Regions from separate parts of the Homo sapiens genome. Here region 1 is linked to region 2. Evidence: fine-mapped expression QTL. A gene starts in region 2. The other region holds a variant in brackets. All regions are shown on one strand. Distances are from middle to middle. Region 1 overlaps GFPT1 (glutamine--fructose-6-phosphate transaminase 1). Region 2 holds the start of GFPT1 (glutamine--fructose-6-phosphate transaminase 1).

Region 1 (4,393 bases), 21 kb after region 2:
GGGATTACAGGCATTAGCCACTGAGCCTGGCCAACTGGTTTGTTTTTGAAGTGTAGTTATCTGAGTGTCTACTTTACTCACAGCTAATTTTTTTTTAAGATGGACTCTTGGTCTGTTGCACAGGCTGGAGTGTAGTGACACAATCTCGGTTCACTGCAACCTCTGCTTCCTGGTTCACGCCATTCTCCTGCCTCAGCCTCCTGAGTAGCTGGGACCACAGGCGCCCGCCACAACGCCTGGCTAATTATTTCGTATTTTTAGTAGAGATGGGGTTTCACCATGTTAGCCAGGATAGTCTCGATCTCCTGACCTCGTGATCTGCCCGCCTTGGCCTCCCAAGTGCTGGGATTGCAGGCGTGAGCCACCACACCTTGCTAATTTTTGTATTTTTAGTAGAGACGGGGTTTTGCCATGTTGGCCAGGCTGGTCTTGAACTCCTGACCTCAGGCGATCCACCCTCTTTGACCTCCCAAAGTGCTAGAATTACAGGCTTGAACCACTGCACCTGGCCAACCCCTAGCTAATCTTACCCTGCAATACATGCAAAATAAGTATTGATTGAATTTATTATCTACAAATGGAAACTTGTAGATATTGCTGGTGAATTTGTAACTGGTAAATCACTTTAAAGAGCAATCTGGCCATATCTACATGGGAAATGCCTATAACCTGAGACTAAGCACTTCCACTCTTGGATATATACTTGAAGGAAACACAGTGAACAAGGTGACATGACAACAAGATTCACTGTTGCAAAATTTAGAAACAGCCTAAATGTCTATAAGTAAGGGAATGGGATGATATAATAAGTTGTGTGTGCCGGGCGTGGTGGCTCACGCTTGTAATCCTGGCACTTTGGGAGGCCGAGGTGGGCGGATTGCCTGAGCTCTGGTGTTTGAGACCAGCCTGGGCAACATGGTGAAACCCCATCTCTACTAAAATACAAAAAATTAGCCGGGTGTGGCGGCGTGCACCTGTAGTTCCAGCTATTCGGGAGGCTGAGGCAGGAGAATCACTTGAATCCAGGAGGCGGAGGTTGCAGTGAGCTGAGATCGTGCCACTGCACTCCAGCCTGGGTGACAGAGTGAGACTCCGTCTCCACAAAACAACAACAACAACAACAACAACAACAAAAAATAAGTTGTATATGATAGTGAATGAGCATATGTAGCTTTTGAAAGAAGTGTACTGAATCTGGTTCTGCATATGGGAACATGGATAATTCCTGGTATGTAAAGTATAGGACATTTAAAAACACAAAACGGTACTATCATTTATGGTCTCATGTTAACATAATCATAGTTTAAAAGGCATGAATAGTAAGACTGTGTCAACTTGAAAATCTTCTGAGGAGTAAGTGAATGGGATGGGGATATAAAGGAGGTTATCAACTGCATTTTTTACATTTATTTATTTCAAGTTTCCATATACCACACTGATTTTTTACATTTTAGATCTTAAAAAATATGTAAAGCACAGATGACTAGATGTTTTGTTAACTCTGAGTATGGGTAGTTGGGTGTTCATTATTCCCAGCAAATTTAAATATGTTTGAAGTATTTTTTTTGAAAAGGGAAGATGACATCTGAGAAAAGGCAGGCAGAGGGCAAGGAGCCATGGGAGTAGAGGTAGGGTAAGATAGAAGATGCAAATGAGGAAATTATTGAAGCACTACGGCCCAAGAAGATCAAGGCACAGGCAAGGAGTTAGCCTTTAAAGGAAAAAGTGTACTTTAGGAATCAAAGATGAAAGACAAACTTAAAGCAGATAATTACCAGGTGAGAGGACAAAAGCTGAGTAAAGTGGAAATTGAGGGATTGCAGGTAGGATTGAGCTTTATGGAGAATAGAAAAGATATGATGAACTGTCAGGGAACTGGATTGAGCTATCAGTTTAATGAATAAGGAACTTGGATACATGTTTCTTAGGTAGCAACAGTGAAATAGATATGTGAATTTGAAAGGGTCTTAATTTACAGAATTTTCTGACTTTCTTCAGTATTGCTTGGCAGTAGATGGGAGAAGAGAAACCGAGTGTGGGGGTTAATCTAGACTTAAGATTCAGCAAAGGGCTTTAAAATGGGTAACAGACAATAAGGAAGCGTCAAGGATTCAAAGTCATGATTAATTTATATGACAGGAAATATTTATTATGAGAAATGTGCTTATTGTCATAGCAATAATTTTTTCTTACTAGACATTCGGTAATGTTCCTACAGCAACAGTGAAATAAAGGTGTGGTAATTATCATGAATTTGAAATGGATTCAATATATAGAATCTTGTGACTTTCTCCA[G/A]TATTGCCTGCCAGCATGTGCAAGGAGATACTGCTTTAATTATAGTTAGCTTAAAAAAGTTGTCAAAGAGGCCAGGCGTGGTGGCTCACGCCTGTAATCCCAGCACTTTGGGAGGTTGAGGTGGGCGGATCACCTGAGGTCAGGAGTTCGAGACCAGCCTGGCCAACATGGTGAAACCCTGTCTGTACTAAAAATACAAAAAATTAGCCAGGCGTGGTGGTGCGTGCCTGTAATCCCAGCTACTCAGGAGGCTGAGATAGGAGAATCGCTTGAACCCGGGAGGGAGAGGTTGCAGTGAGCCAAGATTGCGCCATTGTACTTACTCCAGCTTGGGCACAAGAGCAAAACTCCGTTTCAAAAAAAAAATAAAAAAAGTAGTCAAAGATGTTTTCATTTCTTGCATTGGCCTGTTGAATAATGGTAAATGGTATTTTTCTTGAGGTCATTTATCAGGTTGCCTTAATTACTTAGAACACAGTTAAGCCAGGAAAGAATAGATGCCTGAGTTTATTCATTGATAGATTGAGCCATCCAACAAAAAGGTATCTGCCATGTATACCTTTTAGTGCTTAGGATTCAAAAATAATAAGGTAGGCTGCTGTTTTTGTAGAACTCAAATTCTGGTGGAAGCTAGGTTGACAACATATAAATGTTATAGTACAATAGAATATACCATTGTGGTTTTATTTATTTATTTATTTACTTATTTTTGAGACGGAGTCTTGCTCTTTCGCCCAGGCTGGAGGGCAGTGGCATGATCTCAGCTCACTGCAGCTTCCCCTTCCTGGGTTCAATTGATTCTCCTACCTCAGCCTCCTGAGTAGCTGGGATTACAGGCGTGTGCTACCACGCCCAGCTAATTTTTTCAGTAGAGACAGGGTTTCACCATGTTGGCCAGGCTGGTCTTAAACTCCTGACCTCTGGTGATCCACCTGCCTCAGCCTCCCAAAGTGCTGGGATTACAGGCATGAGCCGTGGTGCTCGGCCAGTTTGCTCTTAATTTAGACCTAACTCTGATAAACTTTGTTATCTGGGTTCTTAGCCAAATTAATTTTATATTTAGGAAATTAAGAGCATTACTAGTTAATAACTGGAGCTGTCCATTTTTTTAAGAAACCCCAAGAAAAGATAGCTTATATGAAAAATAAGAATCAGCTACTTCTTTTTTTTTTTTTTTTTTTTTTTTTTGAGAGGGAGTCTCGCTCTGTCACCCAGGCTGGAGTGCAGTGATGTGATCTCAGCTCACTGTAACCTCTACCTCCTGGGTTCAAGCGATTCTCCTGCCTCAACCTCCCGAGTAGCTGGGATTACAGGCGCGCACCACCACACCCGGCTAATTTTTGTAGTTTTAGTAGAGACAGGGTTTCACCATGTTGGTAAGGCTGGTCTTGGACTCCTGACCTTGTGTCCCACCCGCCTCTGCCTCCCGAAGTGCTGGGATTACAGGCATGAGCCACCACATCTGGACAAATCAGCTACTTTTCAAGATAAAGGAACATTGGCCTATGCCGATTTCCCAGTAGCCCCATACTTTCATAGCATTGCTCGGTTCTTAAATACCTATTTGATTTTGGAGGCACTCCATAGTTGCAGTTTCTATTGTGAGACGTGTGTACACTCACCAGAGACCAAAGAAATTGCAGTCATAAGGTTGTGTGTCATTGGGAAAATGAATTTATTTTTACATGTTTAATTAAATTGATAATGACTTTTTAAGGCAAGAATTAAATATAGATTTAAAAGATTACATTAATTGTTTTTGTCCTTAACTCTTGAGTATTTGTATCTCCAGGAAACTTGAAAGAATAGTACATTATTACCTATATATACTTCACCTAACTTTATCTGTTATTAAAATTTTGTCATGTTTGCTTTAACTCTGTATTAGTTTTTTGGTTGTTATTGAAACCATTTGCCTTCAATATTTCAGTTGCATAAACTCCTAAATCTTTATTTATCTTTATTTTTAATTTTTGTGGGTATATAGTAGGTGTGTAAACTTACTGGGTACATGAGATGTCTTGATACAGACGTACAATGTGTTCCTAAGTCTTTTTTTTTTTTTTTTGAGATGGAGTCTCGCTCTGTTGCCCAGGCT
Region 2 (4,393 bases):
GTGGCATTGACAGGTTTGCTGCCAGTGCACAAAGATGTTGCTTAAGCATTGGAACCATACCTTGGCTTTTAGGTAATACAACGGAGTTCTAACCAGAGCCTTAGATGAGGGTTCTGAGGCTAGATGTATATCCACAGTCTTTTGTTTCTTGAATTAAGAAATGTATTATTACCAAAAAGCTCACTGTTTTTTTTTTTTTTAAACTTTGCTCTGGGTGATCCAGGGACCTGTTTAAGGGATTGAAATATCAAAAGGGCTTTTAGGTGAGAAATACTCTGCTTAGTTAAATGTGACATTTTTCAGCTTCTCTGAGGCAAGTGAAAAAAGGCACTTTTCCCCGTAAGAAGAACTGAAAGCCTTATGCTCACTTAATCATATAACCAGCCATAGAAGGTTAATTCCGCTAAGAAAATAGGACTTTTTTTCACTCATTCCAAAATAAATTTGATCTTTTACTTTGTGCTGTGGTCTAAAAGTGTTGGGTATGTAAAATCTAGTTCTAGCTTCAAGAAACTTACAGCCCAGTGGGAAAATACAGAAAATCATAAAATATCAAAGAATATTTCTTTACAGTGAGTAGCTCAAAGAGTAAGAGGTTAATGCATGTCTCCAAGTCTGTCTAGGGGGGATAAAAAAGGCTTTCCTGAAGAGGTAGCATCTAAACAGAGACGTGGTGGGGATTCTATGCAGAGTAACCAAAGTGTGCAAAAGATTTGAGAATCTTGGCCCAGTTGAGGAACTACCTGTTGAGCCTGTTGGGAGTGTATAGGGCTGGAAGGACGGCTAAGACCAGACACATGAACAGCAGTCAGCAGGCTAAGACCAGACACATGAACAGCAGTCAGCACTCCAGGAATTCTGTGTGCCATGTACGTTTTTGATACTACTCTACTCTAGAGCCATTATAGAGTTCTGATTACTCCACATTTGACTAAAGATACCATTTAAGGCTGTTTAAAGCAAATGCCCAGGTAATAAATTCTCAGAAACATCATCCCTCTCTAATCAAGTCTCTCTTGTCAGACATGGCGCATTAATTCATAGAATGAATCGTTCGTAAGTCAAACGCGCGGCTGTTAAAGCTAGGGAATTCCTAGCCGTCTCAGGTGGGTCATGGGAGGAGGTGGGCCAGCAGTTTCTTACGTCCAGGCTCATAGTCGGATAGTTGAGCCTTACATTCCTCCTCTACCCCTCCACAATAAACTGAGGGTTATGGAGGCAACGGATGCGGAGGGCTTTTAGGGGCCAAGCATATTACACAAGGAATTGAATTGCTTATTACCAGAGAGGCTGACCTTTGGGGCTTTACAGTCAAGAATTTTGTTATCTCTCTCCTCCCACCTCAACCTAATTCTTTGCAATTTTTTTCAGCCTTATGTTCCCCAGGATTCCCTTTTCATACTTCCTGCTTTTTTCCTCCTCTTTCCTCGCTTCGTGCAGTGCTGGCGCCTGGGGCCTGGGGCTGCACGGGGCACGCACCCGGGCTATTGCTTTGCTAACAATTCCATCCTTCTCTTTCCGTCATTCCCTGCCAGGTGCTGAGTTTCTCCCTCCCTCTCGGCTCGGTCCCTCCCGCGGCTCGCCCCGGGGCGGGCGTCTCCAGGAACTCCAGGCGGACGCGGCCACGAGCCACTGCCACGTCGCCGCCGCCAGCAGTCCAGCGCCTGCGTGGGCTCGGGGGGCGGGGCAGCGCTGGGAGGCGGGACTTGCGCGTGAGCGGCGCGTGAGCGGTTCAATGGAGCCTACGGGCGGCGGCGCGCTGCGCGCCGAGGGGCGGGGCCCGGCGGCGGTTGCTGGCGGAGCCCGGGAGGCGGAGAAGGCTGTCGTTGCCTTGGCCGTCGCATCCCCGAGGGAGTCGTGTCGGCGCCACCCCGGCCCCCGAGCCCGCAGATTGCCCACCGAAGCTCGTGTGTGCACCCCCGATCCCGCCAGCCACTCGCCCCTGGCCTCGCGGGCCGTGTCTCCGGCATCATGTGTGGTAAGGGGGCCGGGAGCGGGGGGCGTGTTGCCGGGTGGCGCTGGGGTGCGGTGCGGGTGCCGCTAAGGCCCAAGGCGACGGGCGGAAGCGGGAGTGTGGAGGGTGCGAAGTCTGGGTGATGGGCAAGGGGCGCCCAGTGGTGGCTGCGGGGGCGGGGGCCGGCATCCACGGGCGGGAGAGGGGGTGGCGGCCGGGAGAAAGGCACCTGAGAGGAAGGCGGGCCCCCTTTGCCGGGGGCTAGCGGGCGCCTTGGCGCGGAGAAGGAACCGAAAGGGGAGAGAAACGCCTTTATTGAAAAAGGAGGAGAGAGCTGAGGGAATTGAGGTGTGGAGGGGGTTGCCTTCAAAAGGGCCCACCAGGTGAGTGAGGAAACCTGTGGAACCTCGGGCGAGGTCTCTTGAACTTACCTTGCATTTTTCTAAAAATCTTTAAAAAAATATTTTACTTGTTTCTGGGGAGGCCCAATAGAAAACAGACCCTAGCTAGAGCCACGGTAGTGCCATTAAACGTGATACTTCCTGCCATCCCTTGTCTCAACAGAAACCATTGCTAATCAATAACTTGGTTCATGGGCTTAGACCTGATCCTCTGGTGGAAGAGGCCTTCAAATGTCTGTGGCGATAGGTTATACATAATTTATCATTTGCGTGTGCACCCATTAAAAATGCCAGCTCTGAAAAATATCAGTTATACCTTGGATGTATACCCCTTTAGAATACCAACTATGAAAAATATCATTTATCCCTTGCATGTGCATCCATTAAAAATACTAGCTATGGAAAGTTGAGCAAATATCTTTCCTAGAGCCTTAAAAAATTAAGGTTAGGCCCTTTTATTCCATGTTTTGAGAGTCGTTTATTATGACCTAAGTGTTAGTGAAAGAGACTTTGAGAATCGTGTCTGACATGACTGATATCTTCTAAAATTGGTGTTAATTTGGCTATTGCCAGTAAAAATAATTGTATTCTTACCTTTCTTATTGAAATTTACAACCGACTTTATCCCTGGAAGAAAGTACACTTTTTTTTTTTTTTTTTAAAGGGAAGTACCATTGTAAGAGAATTGAAAACTCTCTGGGAGACTTCTTATTTGCAGCCTTTTACACGAAGGAACTGAACAGGAGGTGGATTGTACTCGTTAGTGTATATATTTCCTGTATTTAACTTTATGCTCATTTCAGCTTCTGAAAATGAGGAGCAGGTTTAAATTTAGAGTAGATTAAAAAAAAACCCACATAAAAACAGAAACACCTATAAATAGCTTACTGAAATTATTAGAGTAGAGCTGACTTCAGAATCAGACTTTTGCAGTGTCTACTTAGTAGAATGGTTTTGCATTTAGTTTGGAGCTGTGAAGTAGTGAATTTGCAAACTGGTCAATCTCCAGTGTGCTTCATTTGGTAGTTAACTGTTCCTGAATGATGAGGGGTGTGCCTCATCAAGTACTCAACATTCTGGTTGCAGGTCATTTCATCATGTTCCAAGAAAAAAACGTAGTCAAAGTACTTACTGAAAAAAAAATAAATAAATAAATAAATCAGCGCTGGGCGTGGTGGCTCCCGCCTATAATCTCAGCACTTTGGGAGGCCGAGGCAGGTGGATCACCTGAGCTCAGGAGTTCAAGACTAGCCTGGCCAACGTGGTGAAACTCCATGTCTACTAAAAATACAAAATTAGCTGGGCGTGGTGGTACGCGCCTGTAATCCCAGCTACTCGGGAGGCTGAGGCAGGAGAATTGCTTGAACCCAGGAGGTGGAGGTTGCAGTGAGCCGGGATCGCGCCATTGTAATCCAGCCTGGGTAAAAAAGAGCAAAACTCCATCTCAAAAATGATAAATAAATATAAATAAATAAATCAGATATGGAAATCAGGTTCAGATAAGGGAGATACCTTTAGGGTGGAGACTAAATGTTGGGAGTTTTCACATAGTTTGTGTCTCCATTCCATAGAGTTTTACGGCTGAGGAAACAGGTATTGAAGAAATAAAAAGTGAATATTTGAGGCATTTCTGAGGTCCTGCTTTTAAGTCATACCACGGTTTTGCCTGATTCTAGGGATAGGGTTCAGAATTTATTTTCTCTCTAATGTAAATTCTGAAAGATAAGAAGATGAGTGTCATTATTTTCCTCCCACATCTTAGTCATTGAACTAAAATTCCTGAGCAGAGAAATGGAGTGAAAATTAGACTAGATGGGAAAATCTGGAAGCTTACTTTCTGATTACTTGCTATCTAGTTAAGTTTTTCTCTTTCTTTCCTTCTTTCTTTTCTTTTCTTTCTTTCTTTCTTTTTCTTTCTTTCTTCTTTCTCTCTCTTTCTTTCTTTCTCTTCTTTCTTTTCTTTCTTTCTTTTTTCTTTTTTTTTTTTTTTTTTTGTGACGGGGCCTCTCTCTGTCGCCCAGGCTGGAGTGCAGCGGCA

Evidence for each region. PIP is the estimated chance that this variant, and not a neighbour inherited with it, causes the effect.
Region 1: its variant is the best candidate, but not a certain one, in a credible set for the expression of GFPT1 in whole blood (INTERVAL, PIP 0.73).

Annotation. Positions count from the first base shown.
Region 1 is chr2:69,364,085-69,368,477 of GRCh38, reverse strand. All of the region lies in intron 3 of GFPT1 (glutamine--fructose-6-phosphate transaminase 1), which reads left to right. Among named protein-coding and RNA genes, the nearest start is that of GFPT1, 21 kb to the left of the region's middle. The variant G/A (reference allele first, on the strand shown) is at 2,296.
Region 2 is chr2:69,384,650-69,389,042 of GRCh38, reverse strand. It overlaps GFPT1 (glutamine--fructose-6-phosphate transaminase 1), which reads left to right and starts at 1,816. Exons shown (of 20, transcript NM_001244710.2): 1 at 1,816-1,978. The coding sequence starts at 1,972. RefSeq lists silencers at 1,397-1,506, 1,567-2,236 and an enhancer at 1,465-2,024.